Linked DNA regions of Homo sapiens: region 2 is linked to region 1. The links come from fine-mapping of genetic effects on gene expression. A gene starts in region 1. The other region holds a variant in brackets. All regions are shown on one strand. Distances are between the middles of the regions.

What was found. PIP is the estimated chance that this variant, and not a neighbour inherited with it, causes the effect.
Region 2: its variant is the best candidate, but not a certain one, in a credible set for the expression of STARD10 in sun-exposed skin (GTEx, PIP 0.53).

What each region holds. Positions count from the first base shown.
Region 1 is chr11:72,789,030-72,797,386 of GRCh38, forward strand. STARD10 (StAR related lipid transfer domain containing 10) reads right to left here and starts at 5,018. Exons shown (of 7, transcript NM_006645.3): 1 at 3,846-5,018. RefSeq lists enhancers at 3,143-3,642, 4,774-5,343.
Region 2 is chr11:72,727,039-72,735,395 of GRCh38, forward strand. It overlaps ARAP1 (ArfGAP with RhoGAP domain, ankyrin repeat and PH domain 1), which reads right to left. Exons shown (of 35, transcript NM_001040118.3): 2 at 5,477-5,559; 3 at 1-134. The coding sequence starts at 90. Among named protein-coding and RNA genes, the nearest start is that of ARAP1, 21 kb to the right of the region's middle. RefSeq lists an enhancer at 2,711-2,780. The variant G/A (reference allele first, on the strand shown) is at 3,412.

The DNA of each region.
Region 1 (8,357 bases):
ATTTTTTGTAGAGATGGGGTCTCCCCAGGCTGGTCTCGAACTTCTGGCCTCAAGCAATCCTCCTGCCTTGGCCTCCCAAAGTGCTGGGATTATAGGTGTGAGCCATTGTGTCTGGCCTCAGTTGTTCCATCTAAGTTGGGTGGACTAATAGAATTTCTGTCATGACAATGAGGATGAAGTGAGTTAATCCCGTGGAGTGCTTAGCACAGTGCCTGGCACACAGTGAGTGCTCAATAACTGCCACAGCTACTATCAGTTCTCAGTTCCTGAGCTTCCTTCCGCCAGGTCTGGCATCTGTCTCCGAGGCCTGGCCTCTGTCCTACATCTTTGTTCCTCAGTCTGGAGGCAATGATTTCTTTCTCCTGAGTGGGGTTAACCTAGAGCCTGGAGGGTTGAGAGGGAAGAGAGGTAGCTGAAATGACATCTTGTCCCCCTCCCTCACCCCCAATCCAAGCAGAGCTGCGAAAGGCCTGGTGTCAATGGCATTTGCTCCTTGCACCCACACAGCCCCTCCTCAATGTCTGACAGCTGCATGCTGGGACAGCAGTGAGGCACAGGGGGTCTGGCCATGTCTAGCCAGAGGGCAGCATGGCACTGAGAGGTCCACATTCCAGGGGCTGGCTCCCAGGACCGCGTGAGGACTGGTGTGGGTGGAATTCTCTAGGGGCTCTGTCTGAGAATGGGGCTGAAGGCTCTGCCCTGGGTCAAGGTTCACCCTAGGTTCCAAACCCACACCTGGAACAGGCCTGCAGCAGGCTCAGCTTCCATGGGCACTGCTATCTGGGGACTCCTGCCAACCACTGCTCCCTGCCGTGAGTCCCTGGTGTTCTGGGTCAGCAGGTATCTCCACAGGCTTCCCGGGGGAAGACTGCCTCTTTCAGCACCTTCTAAATTTAGGGCTTGGGCTCCGTGACTCACTCCTCTGAGCCTGCTTTGCTCCCCTCCTCCAGGAATGTGCTCCCACAGGATCTGCATCCTCTGCTGCCTCAGACTGATGAAGGCCCCACAATCCTGCAGCAGCCACACGCACACCAAGGAGAGCTCTCGGCCCCACTCGCCCCAGACCGGCCCTGGGTTTCTCCCGACTGGGCCCTGTACTCTCCTTCCCTTACCTCTCCATCTTCCCAACCCTCCCTGCAAACCACAGCCCACCCAGGTGGCTACATTGGGAGCTGGCTCCAAGCATGACTATGAGGGTAGTGGGGGGAGGAGAGGTGGAATCAAGCCCTGCCCCCTCCCATGTGGCTGTGGGCAGAGCCCTCACCTGAAGTCAGGAGGCTTGAGTTCTGGACCAGACTCACGCTTACCTCGCCGTGGGGCTCTCAGTGAGTTCTGGCCTCTCTGGGATTCTCTTTCCTCCTCTATAAATAAGGAGTTTGAACCAGACTTCCATTAGGGAAGCTTGAAACAGAGCTAAAGTGAGCACAGGGCCAGGCCTCCAACTACTAACAAGGTGGGCCGGGGGGGTATCTGATGTCAGGCCCTGTCTCCCACCCAGGCGCCCCTCTTCCCCCAGCCCCTGCTCCATGAGGGGAAACGAGGACCAAGAACCTGCTGTTAGCATTCATGGACTTCTGCCATGCAGGGAGGAAGCTCATGCACAACCCCACACCCTGAAAGGGCCAGAAAGAGCCCAGGATCTTGTTCTGGTCTGACTGTCCAGGGCTGTAATGTGTAGCTTTGAGTAAAAACCATCTTCACTCTTGGCCTCAGGTTGTGGGGAAGAGAATCATGTGCATGTGCAGGTGTAAACACTCGAGACATTTCTCCCCTGCCAGCTTCCCAGAACTGGAGGAGGAGATGGGGACATGGGTCCTCCCTTGACTTTCAGAAATGCAGGCACCCAGGGCAGGGTGTGGAGGTATCTAGAGATGGTCAGACCTGGGGCTGCTGCTTCTCTGCCCCTGCATTGACTTTTGGAGAACCCCATCTGCGGCCTGCCTCGACCTGTGTTCACAAGTAACAACAGTGGCTAACAGTTACTGAATGCTTACCACGGGCCTGGTGCTGGTCTATGCACTTAACAGGTCTTAACTCATTTAATTTATAGGTAAACCTTGATAACAGGTCTTAACTCATTTAATTTATAGGTAAACATTGAGACAGTCCCAAGGCTTAGCATCCCCACTTTACAGACAATTTGAGGCTCAGAGAGGGGCAGGGACTCACCTGGGGTCACAGTCTTAAATCACTGGGAGGGCTGGTTAAAAGCCAGGTCTGAGGGCAATCCTGGCTTCTATTTGCTACCCCAAGGTAGTCCTTCTCGGAGTATACATTAGACACTAAATAAATGTTTGATGAAGATGTTTGACTACTGCCATGTAATGGAAAGATCCCTGTCGTAGTCCAGTTCTACCCCAACTCCTTGTGTGTCCTTAATAGAGTCCTTTTCTGGCCGGGCGTGGTGACTCATGCCCATAATCCCAGCACTTTGGGAGGCCGCGAATGGATCACCTGAGGTCAGGAGTTTGAGACCAGCCTGGCCAACATGGTGAAACCGTGTCTCTACTAAAAATACAAAAAATTAGCCAGGCATGGTAGTGGGCACCTGTAATCCCAGCTACTTGGCAGGCTGAGGCAGGAGAATTGCTTAAACCCAGGAGGCGGAGGTTGCAGTGAGCCAAGATCGCACCCTTGCACTCCAGCCTGGGCAACAAGAGTGAAATTCCGTCTCAAAAAAAAAAAAAGAGGTCCTTTTCCTTCTTTAGCCTCAGTTTCTCTGGCTGAAAAACAGAAATGATAAGTGAAGGCCCAGATAATTAAATGCTTGGAGGTGAATCCAAGATCCACCTCCAGATAATTCCATTGAATTATCTTGGATACCTTTTTGTTGTTGTGTTTTGTTTTGTTTTGTTTTGTTTTGAGACGGAGTTTCGTTCTTGTTGCCCAGGCTGGAGTGCAATGGCACCATCTCGGCCCACGACAACCTCCGCCTCCTGGGTTCAAGCGATTCTTCTGCCTCAGCCTCCCGAGTAGCTGGGACTACCGGCATACACCACCACACCTGGCTAATTTTTTTTTTTTTTTTTTTTTTTTTTGAGACAGAGTCTTACTCTGTCAGCCAGGCTGGAGTACAGTGGCGCCATCTCGGCTCACCGCAAGCTCCGTCTCCCGGGTTCACGCCATTCTCCTGCCCCAGCCTCCCGAGTAGCTGGGACTACAGGTGCCCGCCACAACGCCCGGTTAATTTTTTTTTTTGTATTTTTAGTAGAGATGGAGTTTCTCCACTTTGGTCAGGCTGATCTCAACCCCCAACCTCAGGTGATCCGCTCGCCTCAGCCTCCCAAAGTGCTGAGATTACAGGCGTGAGCCACCGTGCCTGGCCTATCTGGGATATCTTGAAGGATCTTGGATTTCTATTTCTACATATACCTGCCTTTCATGACTTGCCTGGGGAGGCCCAATCTGTAATGAGACCTCAGGGTCTCCCAGCCCTTCCCCCAACCTACCCCCAAAACCTCTAAGAGCACTCTAGAGAGAATCAGCTGCATACAGCCCAGCTCCACCGCTCCAAGGGTCAGAGAAAAGTCCCCTTCCCTGGGGTTAGCTGCATGATCCTGCAGGTGCCATGGTGTGCCTAGGTGCCACCTCGCTTCACCTGGCTGGGGAGTGGCTCCTAGACCTCAGCTCAATGCGCATCACTTCCCCTTCTCATCAGCCAGGCCAGCCCAGGTATCACCTCCAGCTCCACTGCCCCCAGATGGAGTTACCTGAGTACCCAATTCCTCCCAAGCTCAGAAACAGTGTCCACTGCCTTCCCACTCCTTTCCATTCAGAGTCTGTCCCCTTAGTGCTGCCCCCTCATCTGTCACACCTGGGTTCTTTCCCTTACTTGGGCCACTGACCTGAGAAGCAGGGTCTGTACAGCTCCAGCAACACTCTCCTCTTCCTCCAGAATTCTCCAGATCCTCCTCAGCTTCTTGGCTCTGGTGCTCATCTCAACACAGCAGGGTCTTCCTCCATCAGGCCAAGGTGGGGGTAGGAGAAGAATTGGGAACAGGGACTCCCCTAGGTTCTCAGGGTACAGTCAGTCAATCTAAGCCTGTATCCAACAAAGACACTGACCCCTGGGGTACAAGGAAGGGCTCCAGGCCCAAAGGCAGGAGGATTAGGCTTTAGCTCTTGCTCACAGCCTGCTGAGACCTGGGGCAAGCCCCTGTCCCTCTTTGGGCCCTCAGGTTTGCAATTTGCAGAATGAGGAAATGGGTTCCTCAATCTACAATCACCTGACTATAATAATATTTTGCCTTTATATACCGCGTGGGTAAATTCCTGAAAGTAAACTAAGCTGTTTTCACCCCTGGATCTCATTTGATCCTCCCAACAGCCTGTTTGCATTTACAAATGAGAAAGCTCAGTTCCCTAAGGGAACAAAATTACCCAAAGTCACACAGCAAGCTGGAAGCAGAGCCTGGGTGCAGTCCTTGAATCCTGATCCTTCCCTGGTCCTTTACTCTCTATGATGCTGGAAATCTGCCTGACTTCCTCTAACCTGTTGTCCCATTTGTAAAAGGACTGTTGTGAGGACTGAATTAGGAGAGGCGATGAAGAGGGTCATTCCTTGTGAATCATAAAAGAAAGGACCACAGAACGATGACTGGACCGTTAGGTTACTATTTATTACGGTTATCTTCGCTCAGGCGCCCCCACGTGTCGATCCCGAGACTCTCGGCTTGCGCAGGCGCTCTTTGGTGTTTACAGCGGCCGCGAAGCCCCGCGTTTGCGCGTGCGCTTCCCGCCCGGGACCGCCCAGAGGTCCCGGACTAGGGGCGGACTAGGGGCCGCTCTGCCTCCCGCCCCCTAGTGGTTGTGGCCGCTCTGTCACCACGGCTCCCGGGGCCTCTGTCGGCTCCACTTTGGTTGAGACGTCTCCACAGCCCAACAACGGCGGCGATCTGAGGAGAGGCAGGAGAAAATACGGCGCGCTCGGCATCGTCCTTCTGACCGGGGACTCCAGCATCTCAGTCATCGCGTCACCAAGCCCCACGTGCAGGTTCTGGCATCCATCATGGCAAACTGGAGACCGCGGTGAATTCCACCGGAATGGCGCGCGCATTGCCACATGGGAACTGTAGTTCTTGGCTAGGACCTTTCTGGGGCTGGGCCGCTGGAAAAACTACATTTCTCAGGAGCTCAAGAGTCAGGCTGACAGAAAGGGGGCCCGCGGCATGTTGGGAGATGGAGTTTGGGGGGTTCGTGCTAGCAGGGAAACAGTGAAGCAATGGAGCCAAGTGTTCTGAGCCTGGGCCTGTGGGTTTGAGTTGGGCAGGAGTTACACAGTAGCTCTTATAAGAGAGGAGTAGCATTGTTGCGGCTTTTAGAAAGAATGCTACTTATTAGTTGTGTGATCTGAGCGATCAAGACAAATGCCCCTTTATCTTTTTTATTTATTTATTTTTTGAGACAGGGTCTCTGTCTGTCAGGCTGGAGTGCAGTGGCCCCAGAACTGCTGGCCTCCCGCCTCACCCTCCCAAAGTGCTGGGATTATAGGCGTGAGCCATCAGGCCTGGCCAGATGCCTTTTTATCAACTACGATGGACCTTAAGGTTAAGGTTAAGGAAACAAACGTTGCCTACCTCAGGGCTCAGCTGTCAGCTGGCATGGCAACTTCTTAAATTTCTACTGCTGCCAGAAAAACCACACTCTTACTAAACCCCTAGCAATAGGAGCTATCATGCAAATTGTCAGACTCTTCTTTACTGAGATTTACAACTCAGACCACTACAACGCTGATCGACAGAGGACAGGCCTTACAAACATTCTTTCCTGATAAGTAACTGCAGACCTCAGGCCAGTTTCAGCAAGCTCATAGAGACTGCACGCAAACTGTGTTTGTGTCCTATAGTCCACCTTATGATGCAAAGAACCAAATTCCACCTCACTTTAACGCAAAAACCCCATCCCAAAGTGAACATGGAACATATGTTACAGGTGTTTACCCATTGTGCATGCACTCACATCCCCTCATAAATATGTATAGCTTTTCCCCAAAACCTGCTGAATATGTATGATTATTGTGAAATACAGACCCTGTGAGTCATAAACCAGCCTAGGCCGGGAGTGGTGGCTCACGCCTGTAATCCCAGCACTTTGGGAGGCCAAGACGGGCGGATCACGAGGTCAGAAGATTGAGACCATCCTGGCTAACATGGTGAAACCCCGTCTCTACTAAAAATACAAAAAAATTAGCTGGGTGTGGTGGCGGGCGCCTGTAGTCCCAGCTACTCGGGAGGCTGAGGCAGGAGAATGGCATGAACCTGGGAGGTGGAGGTTGCAGTGAGCCGAGATCGCACCACTGCATTCCAGCCTGGGCGACTGAGCGAGACTCCGTCTCAAAAAACAAAAACAAAAAACAACCAGCCTGCCTTTTCCCTATACAAAGAGAGAGCACCTTTGGTACCTACAGGAGAGTGTCTCTTTTCAGTTTGCAAACTGATGTCGCTAATGAAACTGCCCTCTACTATTTAGGCATCCTGGTGTTCTAGAGGGTAGCAGTCTGCACCTCTCACAGGGCTTCCTCTTCCATCACTCCTCAGAGACTGTATTCACAGGGGTCACCTGTGTGTGAGATGCAGTTTGTCTTTTTTGGGGGGAGGGCAGGGGCTGTTCGTTTGTGGTTTTTTTTTTGTTTTTTGTTTTTTTTTTTGAGACGGAGACTTGCTCTGTCATCTAGGCTGGAGTGCAGTGGCATGATCTGGGGCTCACTGCCAGCTCCGCCTCCCGGGTTCATGCCATTCTCCTGCCTCAGCCTCCTGAGTAGCTGGGTCTACAGGCACCCGCCACCACGCCGGGCTAATTTTTTTTTTTGTATTTTTTTAGTAGAGATGGGGTTTCACCGTGTTAGCCAGGATGGTCTCGATCTCCTGACCGTGTGATCCGCCCACCTCGGCCTCCCAAAGTGCTGGGATTACAGGTGTGAGCCACTGTGCCCGGCCTTGTTTTTGTTTTTTTGAGACAGGGTCTCATTCTGTCACCCAGGCTGGAGGCAAGACCATTGTTCACTGCAGCCTGGACCTCCTGGGCTCAATCTATTCTCCCACCTCAACCTCCTGAGTAGCTGTGTTTATAGGCACACACCACTACACCTGGCTAATTTTTTTTTAATTCTCACTTTAATTATGTTTTGCCTTTTTTTTTTTTTTTTTTAGATGGAGTCTTATTCTGTCACCCTGGCTGGAGTGCAGTGGCTCACTGCAACGATCTTGGCTCACTGCAACCTCCGCCTGCCAGGTTCAAGGGATTCTTCTACTTCAGCCTCCCAAGTAGCTGAGATTACAGGCGCACACCAACACGCCCAGCTAATTTTTTTTTTTTTTTTGAGAAGGAGTCTTGCTCTGTCGCTCAGGCTGGAGTGCAGTGTCGTGATCTTGGCTCACTGCAACCTCTGCCTCCTGGGTTCAAGAGATTCTCCCGCCTCAGCCTCCTGAGTAGCTGGGATTACAGGTGCTCACCACCATGCCCAGCAATTTTTTTTTTTGTATTTTTTTAGAGACGAGGTTTCACGCTGTTGGTCAGGCTGGTCACGAACTCCCGATCTCATGATCCACCCACCTCGGCCTCCCAAAGTGCTGGGATTACAGGCGTGAGCCATCATGCCTGGCCTAATTTTTGTATTTTTAGTAGAGATGGGGTTTCACCATGGTGGCCAGGCTGGTCTCAAACTCCTGACCTCAGGTGATCCCCCTGCCTTGGCCTCCCAAAGTGCTGGAATTGCAGGTGTGAGCCACCGCGCCCAGCCTAATTTTTTGTGATTTTTGTAGAGACAGGGTTACGCCATGTTGCCCAGGCTGGTCTCAAACTCTTGAGTTCAAGGGATCCTCCTGCCTTGCCTCCCAAAGTGCTGGGATTACAGGCGTGAACCACCCCACCTGGTCTCAAACTCCTCTTTGGAAAAAAAGTATGGGCCACAGATTCTACTGTGGCTGTTGTCTCTTTCCCAGGTTTGTCCTCAACCATGGTAAAATAAATCTCTAAACTGATAGAGACCTGTCTCAGGTACTTTTTGGTTTACAAAATTGTATTAATAGGCCGGGTGCAGTGGCTCACGCTTGTAATCCCAACACTTTCAGAGGCCAAGGCATGGGGATCACTCGAGGCCAGGAGTTCGAGACCAGCCTGGCCAACATGGCGAAAACTTGTCTCTACCAAAAATACAAAAATTAGTCAGGCATGGTGGTGCACACCTGTAATCCCAGCTACTTAGGAGGCTGAGGCAGGAGAATCGCTTGAGCCTGGGAGGTGGAGGTTGCAGTGAGCCGAGATTGTGCCACTGCACTCTGCACTCTGGCCTGGGCAACAGAGTGAGACTCTGTCTCAAAAAAAAAAACAATTTTTTAAAAATTATATGAATAAGAATG
Region 2 (8,357 bases), 62 kb before region 1:
ATGCTGCTCAAAGAGCCCCGTGTACTGCTCCAGGTGCAATGCCCGCAGCCACTCGGCCACCGATAGCGCAGCATCCCCAGCCTCTGCCATGGTTCCTGCCAGCGGAGGCCTGACTGGCAGGGCTTTGTCCAGAGCTAGAATAGACAGACAGGCACAGGTCAGAGGCAGGGCTGCCGAGGATTGGTCCCCTCACCAGCAGCCTGCATGGCTCTCTCAAGCCATAGGTTCAAGTTCTGTCCTGGAGCTTCCTCCCCTGTGCTCCATGTGCTAAGCAAGGCCAGGTACTGCCAGGTCTCTGAACACACAGGCTCTTCTCTCCGCCTGAACCCCCTCACCCCTTCCCTTGTGCTATCCCAGCATCCAGCTCATGTTTTCTTCTCTAGGAAACCCTCCATGATCTCTGGGGTTGGTACCACCCCACACCCCAACACACAGCCTTGGCCACTGCCGTGAGAATGGCCAGTGGCATGATTGGTGCTGTGTCTTATACCTCCTCCCCACTGCCCTCTGCAAGACCCACGGCAGGGCTAATTCCCTCTGAGGCACCAGTTCCCAGTGAGGGCCAGGCCAAGGGCTTAGCGAGCATTGAAGGATACCACTGCTGGTCCCTCCTGCAAGCCCAGTCTGGGAGCCGAGACTAGCCTCCCCCTACCTCCATGCCCCTGGAGGAAGTGAAATGCTGTGGGACGTGAGTAAACCCAGCATCACATGGCCTCTGGGGGCCTGGCCCTGGAATTGGGTAAACCCTCCCATCACTAAGGCCATTCATCCATTTGTTCTTTCAAAATAGCCTGGCACTAGGCAATGGGGACTCAGGCTCTACCCCTGCACCCTGTAATCAAGAGCTCCTGGCCTGGTGGGAGTCAAGAGGTGATATGAAGAGGTGACCAAAAGAGGTGATTAGCAGATCAAAGGGAAAAGTCATCTGATTATCTCCACAGACACTAAAGAGGCATATGATAAAACCCAATATCCAGCTTACTTACACAAACAAAAATCTTACTAAAACAGAAATAAATTGATACTTTCTTAAATGAGAAAAGAATATCCATTTTACTGTTGTTATTATTATTCCTCACATTGCTCTGAAAGCTCTGGACAACAAAAATAAACAAGAGGTCTTAAAATCAGAAAGGAAGAGATAAACTATCCATTTGTTGCCAATAATATGAGTGTTGAGTTTGAAAGCCCAAGAAGGTCAACTGAGAAACTATAACAACCAGTAAAGACTTTAGTAAGACAGTTGGGTTCAAAATTAATATAACAGACTGGCCGGGCACAACTATAATCCTAGCACTTTAGGAGGCCGAGGCGGGTGGATTGCCTGAGCTCAAGAGTTTCAGACCAGCCTGGGCAATACAGTGAAACCCCATCTTTACTAGAATACAAAAAATTAGCCAGGCATGGTGGCATGCGCCTGTAGTCCCAGCTACTCAGGAGGCTGAGGCAGGAGAATTGCTTGAACCCAGGAGGCAGAGGTTGCCATGAGCCGAGATCATGCCACTGCACCCCAGCCTGGGCAACAGAGTGAGGCTCCGTCTCAAAACAAAAACAAAAACAAAAACAAAAGAAACAAACGAAAATTAATATAACAGAAATCAACATTTATAAGCAACAAACAGGTAGAAACCAGGATGAAAGACCCCATTTACAAAAGCATCACAAAATAGAAAACACCAATAAACTTCCTAAGAGATAAACAACAGCGATAGGAAGAAAAATTGGGAGTGTTACTGAGGGACAAAAAGAAGACCTGGACAAATGGCAGAGCACAGTAAGTTCTGGATAGAAGACAACATAAAGAGATTAATGATGTCTAAGTTACTTTATAAATGTACACAATCCAATTAAATATGTACAGAATTTTTTTTGAAGCTGATTTGAAATTTCATGTGGAAAAATAAGCAGGAAGAGTGAGGAAAATTCTGGAAGCAGGGGTGGAGGGCGGGGAGGGTAAAGAGTAGGAGTCAACCTCACCACATGTTAAAACATATTATAAAGCCACAATGATTAAAACAGTATATGGTAACAGTGCATGAACAGACAGATCAATTAAACAGAACAGAAAGTTCAAAAGTAGACCCAAATACATATACAAATTTAGGATACACTAAAAGTAGCCTCTCAAACTTGTGGGGAAACAAGGGATTCTTAAGTTGTTGGGACAGCTGTGGAGTGCTCTCAAAAAAAACTAATGTGGATCCCTATCTCACACTTTACAACAAGAAACATTACAGCTGTATCAAAGACTTCAGTATTTTAAAAAACCATGGCTGGGCAAGGTGGCTCACACCTATAATCCCAGCACTTAGGGATGCTGAGGCAGGCAGATCCCCTGAGGTCAGGAGTTTGAGACCAGCTTGGCCAACACGGCAAACCCTTGTCTCTACTAAAAATACAAAAAATTAGCCGGGCATGGTGGCAAGCACCTGTAATCTCAGCTACTCAGGAGGCTAAGGCAGAATTGCTTGAACCCAGGAGGTGGAGATTACAGTGAGCCGAGATCACTGCACTCCAGCCTGGGCAACAGAGAGAGACTCCACTTCAGAAAAAAAAATAAAAAATAAAAAATGAAAGGATTTACGAAATCATCCTAGGGCTGGGTATGGTGGCTCACGCCTGTAATCCCAACACTTTGGGAGGCTAAAGCAAGAGGACTGCTTGAGGCCAGGAGTTTAAGACCAGCCTGGGCAACACAGCAAGACTCTGTCTCTACTAAAAAAAAAACCTAAAAATTAGGCAGCTGCACACTTGTAGTCTCAGCTACTTGTGAGGATGAGGTGGGAGAATTGCTTGAGCCTAGGAGTTCAAGGCTGCAGTGAGCTATGATCACACCACTGCACACCACTGCACTCCACCCTGGGCAACAGAGTGAGACTGTCTCTAAAAAAAAAAAAAAAAAATCATTTCAGAGAGGCAAAAGCCTTCTGGAAATGAAACAAGTCCAGAAGGCACACAGAAAAGACTGAAATATTCAACTCTACAAAAATCAAGCACTCTTGCATGGTAAAAAGCACCATAAGCAAAGCCAAGAGCTAAACAACAAACTAGGGGATATCTGCCACTCATATTCCACACAAAGGGCTCATTTTCCTAAAAGTTGAAAAGCATGCAGAAATAAGAAACGGATCAATAATCTAACAGAAAAATGGGCAAAGAGTATGAATGAAAAAATTTACAAAAAGGAAAATATAAATGGCTCTTAAATATCTGAAAAGGAACTTAACCTCCCCCACACTAGGAAATATGAATGTAAAATATTTTGAAATACTGCTTTCTACCTATCAGATTGTCAAAGAGCAATAAAGTTGGAAAATACAGGCATTGGTGATGTGGTAGGGCATCCCTTCCCTGGCTGTGGAATGCCTCTAGGCATGAAAGCCCTAAGAGATGCAGATGTCTGGGCTGGGC[G/A]CGGTGGCTCACACCTGTAATCCCAACACTTGAGGTCAGGAATTCGAGACCAGTCTGGTCAACATGGTAAAATCCCGTCTCTACTAAAAATACAAAAAGTTAGCCAGGCACAGTGGCAGACACCTGTAATCCCAGCTACTCAGGAGTCTGAGGTGCAGGAGAATCGCTTGAACCCAGGATGTGGAGGTTGCAGTGAGCCGAGATCACACCATTGCATTCCAGCCTGGGGGACACTTTGTCCTCCCGCCTCCCCCAAAAACAGAGATGCAGATGGCTGACCCAGCCACCCATAGGCACTTAGCCTGCATTTTTACTGGCACCTGCCAGAATTGACATATATAGAAGGTTACTAGCTACAGTGCCTGTGTTTAATAGCAAAAGAATGGAAATAACCAAAATGGCCATCAATGGGAGAATAGTTAACTAAATTATGTTGTAGTTGTGCAATAGAATACTGAGCGGCCATAAGAATGAGGAAACTCCTCACATATTGACATGGGATGATCTATAAGATACACTGTTAAAGGAGTAAAGAAAAGTGCAGAACAGTTTGTGTAACATTCTCTCTCTGTGAAAAAAACAAGGGGGAGCATGGAGTAGTGTGCAGCTACTGGTAAATGAACAAAGTATCTCTGAAAAGACACATGAGGGCAAGGTGACAACAGTTATCAGCTTCCTCCTAGGACGAAAACTAAGGCCTGAAGGGACAGGAGGGAACAGTGGAAGATGCAGAGTTCACAGGGCCTGAAGTTCATGGGACCTGAAGCTTACACAATTTAAGTGCCCTCTGATATGGTTTGGATGTTTGTCCCCTCCAAATTTCATGTTGAAATGTGACCCCCAATGTTGGAGGTGGACCTAGTGGGAGGTGTCTGGGGTCACGGGGACAGATCCCTCATGAATAGCTTGGTGCCCTCCCCATGGTAACAAGTGAGTTATCACTCTATTTGTTCATGTAAGAGCTAGCTGGTTAAAAGAGCCCGGCTTCTCTCTTGCTTCCTCCCTCACCATGTGACATGCCTGCTCCCGCTTTGCCTTCTGCCCTGACTAAAAGCTTCCTGAGGCCTCACCAGAAGCTGAGCAGATGCTGGTGCCATGCTTATACAGCCTGCAGAGCCCTGAGCCAAATACACCTCTTTTCTTTATAAATTACTCAGGGTATTCCTTGATTGCAATACAAAACAGACTAACACATTCTCCTTAAGAGTATCTCACTTTTGCAAAATTCACAAAAACACATGACCACATGCACACACTGTTCAGGACCCTCTTTAGATCCTGGAAGGAGCCCTGCACCTCAAACTCCAGCTTCCCTGGAAATCCACCTCTGAGGAGAGGGAGACTTTTCACTTCAACATATAAAGATGTCAGTTCCTCCAGGGTTAAGCTAAAACTTTAACACCATCCCAACTAAAATTACCAGCTGGAATTTGTTGAGACCAGCAGATTCTAAAGTTCATATAAAATGATATTAGAGATGTGTTAAGTGGAAAAGCAAGATGCAGAACAGTGTTATGTAAACATCTCGGTTAAAGAAAAAGAAAAAAATATACATATGTTATATATATATGCAAATATAAACACAGAAAACTGGACGGATATATATAAAACTGAGTTTGGGGAGGGGAATTGACAGCTGGGAAGACAGGAGACACTATACCCTTCTGTATCTTTTAAATTTTGTATCATTTTCCAAAAAGTAAATAAAAATTAAAAGGGAATGTGATAACCATGAATAGAGCCTGAGAATGAGAAAGGGAACAAAACTTGCCAGGCAGGGAGGGGAATCCAGTGAGGAGATACATAAACACAGACCTGCAATTCAGCCTGCTGGCCCCTGCCTTGTCCCTCTGTCTCGTACCCCCACCCTGTTCCAAGGTTCCAAGGCCTGCTGGGAGGCTCGTAGCAAGCTCTCTGGGCCTCACCCTCTGCCTCTCAAGCTCAGTTCTCAAAATGGAAAATGGGCTATCAGGTGTCAGCCTCCATCAAGCCTTCCCCGACCTCAATGTTAAGGCCTAGCGTGCCACAGCCAGCCCTGTTCCCACCGCTCCACCTCCTGACTCACCAGCTGGGCTGCCAAGGACGCCCGGGTCCTCCCAGAGACAGCAGCTATTCTGAAGGGCTCCTCATCTCGGCCTGAGGCGGGAGCTGCAAGGACAGGGATGGAGGAGAAAGCCCGTGAGGCAAGGCCACTATGAGATGCCAGAGAAGGAGAGGGGAAGAGGGAGAGGGACAGGGAAAAGGAAAGAAGAAATGGGGGCCAGGCACAGTAGCTCACGCCTGTAATCCCAGCACTTTGGGAGGCAGGTGGATTCGAGTCCAGGAGTTCAAAACCAGCCTGGGCAACATAAGAAGACCCCATCTGTACAACAAAAATACAAAAATTATCCAGGTGTGGTAGTGTGTGCCTGTAGTCCCAGGAACTCAGGAGGCTGAGGTGGGAGAATCACTTGAGCCCAGGAGGTGGAGGCTGCAGTGAGCTGTGATTGAGCCACTACACTCCAGCCTGGGAAACAGAGCCAGACCCTGTCTCAAAAAAAAGAAAAGAAAAAAGAAGAGATGGGGAAGAGGTGGAAGAAGAGGAAGAGAAGGAAGAGGGAAGAGGAAAGGATTCGGGGAACCTCATGCTCATGGAAACTGGCAACAGAAGTCAGACCAGAGGAAGGCCTTCCTGGAGGGAGAAGGCAGACAGACAGGCCTGTCCAGATGTGGGGGCTGCACAGGTGGTAAAGAGGAGTCAGGACTTCCCCACTCTCTGGCCCTGCAAGACCAGTGCTGGGATGTGTGTAGGGGCAGACTGTGGAAGGGACAGCCCCAGGAAGGGTGAGGAAGGGACAATGCAGCCCTGCGACTAAAGAGGTCTCCCTGACACAGAGCCTGTCAGGAGAGGTGGGGGACCTTAGAGGACCCAGGGACACAGGACCCTCTCCACTAAGCCTGGGGACCATGAAGTGGCCTGAGGGCACAAGTAGGGTAACTGAGTCAGGGGCATGAGACCCCAGGGCCCTGCCCCTAAATATGTAGGGGAGGTTGAGGAAAACAGACCAAAAGGGGATGCTTCCAGGCAGGAGGAGAAAGAATAGGATATTCCTGACAGGCCACCACCCTTGCTATGCAGACAGCCGGAGCTCTGTGGGGCTAGGGACCAGTGGAGTGGCATGGACAGGTCTCCCTCCCCAGGACCTGGAACAGTCAGGTCTGCCAACACTAGGGTTAACTTCAAAACTGCTGTGCTCTGCATAATGGCTTCAGTAGGTATTCATGAACATTTTACATCTTACAAACACATAAACAGGTATTTATCTTAAGCAAACTCCATGATTATCACTGCCTAGGATAGGGCTAAAACAGGTATACATTTTTTAAATATTTTATTTTAGTTTATTTATTTTGAGACAGAGTCTAACTCCGTTGCCCCAGCTGGAGTGCAGTAGCGCAATCTTGGCTCACTGCAGCCTCCACCTCCCAAGTTCAAGCACGATTCTCTTGTCTCAGCCTCCCGAGTAGCTGGGACTACAGGTGCGTATCACCATGCCCAGCTAATTTTTGTATTTTTAGTAGAGACGTGGTTTTGCCATGTTGGCCAGGCTGGTCTCGAACTCCTGACCTCAAGTGATCCACCCACCTCAGCCCCCCCAGTTGCTAGAAGTACAGGTGTGAGCCACCACACCTTGCCTTATTTTATTTTTGAGACAGGGTCTTGCTCTGTTGCCCAGGCTGGAGTGTAGTAGTGCAATCATAGCTTACTGCAACTTCCAACTCCCAGGCTCAAGCAATCTTCCTGCCTCAGCCTCCTGAGTAGCTGGAACTACAAGTGCATGCCACTGTGCCCAGCTAATTTTGTTATTTTTTGTAAAGACAGGGTCTCGTTATGTTGCCCAGGCTGGTCTCAAACTCTTGGCCTCAAGCAATCCTCCCACTTTGACCTCCCAAAGTGCTTAAGATTATAGGCATAAGCCACTGCACCCAGCCCAAAAGTCAATACTTAAAAAACAACCTTTAAGTAGCTAGCACTTCAGATGAAAGCATTGGCAAAAATGGCAGTGCTACTCAAACGACAATTTGAAACAAGAAAAAGAGACCACATAAACAGTGCTTACTGCATGCCAGGTATCCAAGTACTTTATATTAACTCATTAAAGCCTCACAGCAGCCCCAGGAGATACATATGATTGCTATCCCTGTTTTAAGGTGAAGAAACTGAGATAAAGGGAGGTTAAACAACTTTCCAAAGCCACACACCTAAGAAGGAGGCAGTATGAATATAGTCTAGCCCTGTGCTGTCCAATAGCAGCCAGCAGTAGCCACACGTGGCTGTTGGACATTTGAAATGTGGTCCCTGGAATATGATGTGCTAGATTTTGAACACAGTGGATTTTGAAGACTGAGCACAAAAAAAAAAAAAAAGAATGCAAAATATCTCAATAATTTTCCCTATTGTTTACATGATGAAATATATTATTAACATTAATTTCACTTGGACTGTTTAAATTGCATTGTGGCTTACACTCTATTCATACTGGAGACTGTAGCTCTCAACTTTTTTTTTTAGACAGGGTCTCGCTCTGTCACCCAGGCTGGAGTGCAGTGGCACAATCTCTGCTCACCGCAACCTCTGCCTCTTGGGCCCAAGCAATTATCCCACGTCAGCCTCCCAAGTACCTGGGACTACAGGCTTGCACCACCACGCCCGGCTAATTTTTCCATTTTTTTGTAGAGATGGGGTTTTGCCATGTTGCCCAGGCTGGTCTTGAGCTCCTGGGCTCAAGTGATCTACCTGCCTCTGCCTCCCAAAGTGCTGGGATTACAGGCGTGAGCCACCAGCCTTTGGCCATCCACTTTTAACCACTCTTCACGGCCTCTCAAAACACAAACTGAGGGCCGGGCGCAGTGGCTCATGACTGTAACCCCAGCACTTTGGGAGGCCAAGGCGGGTAGATCACTTG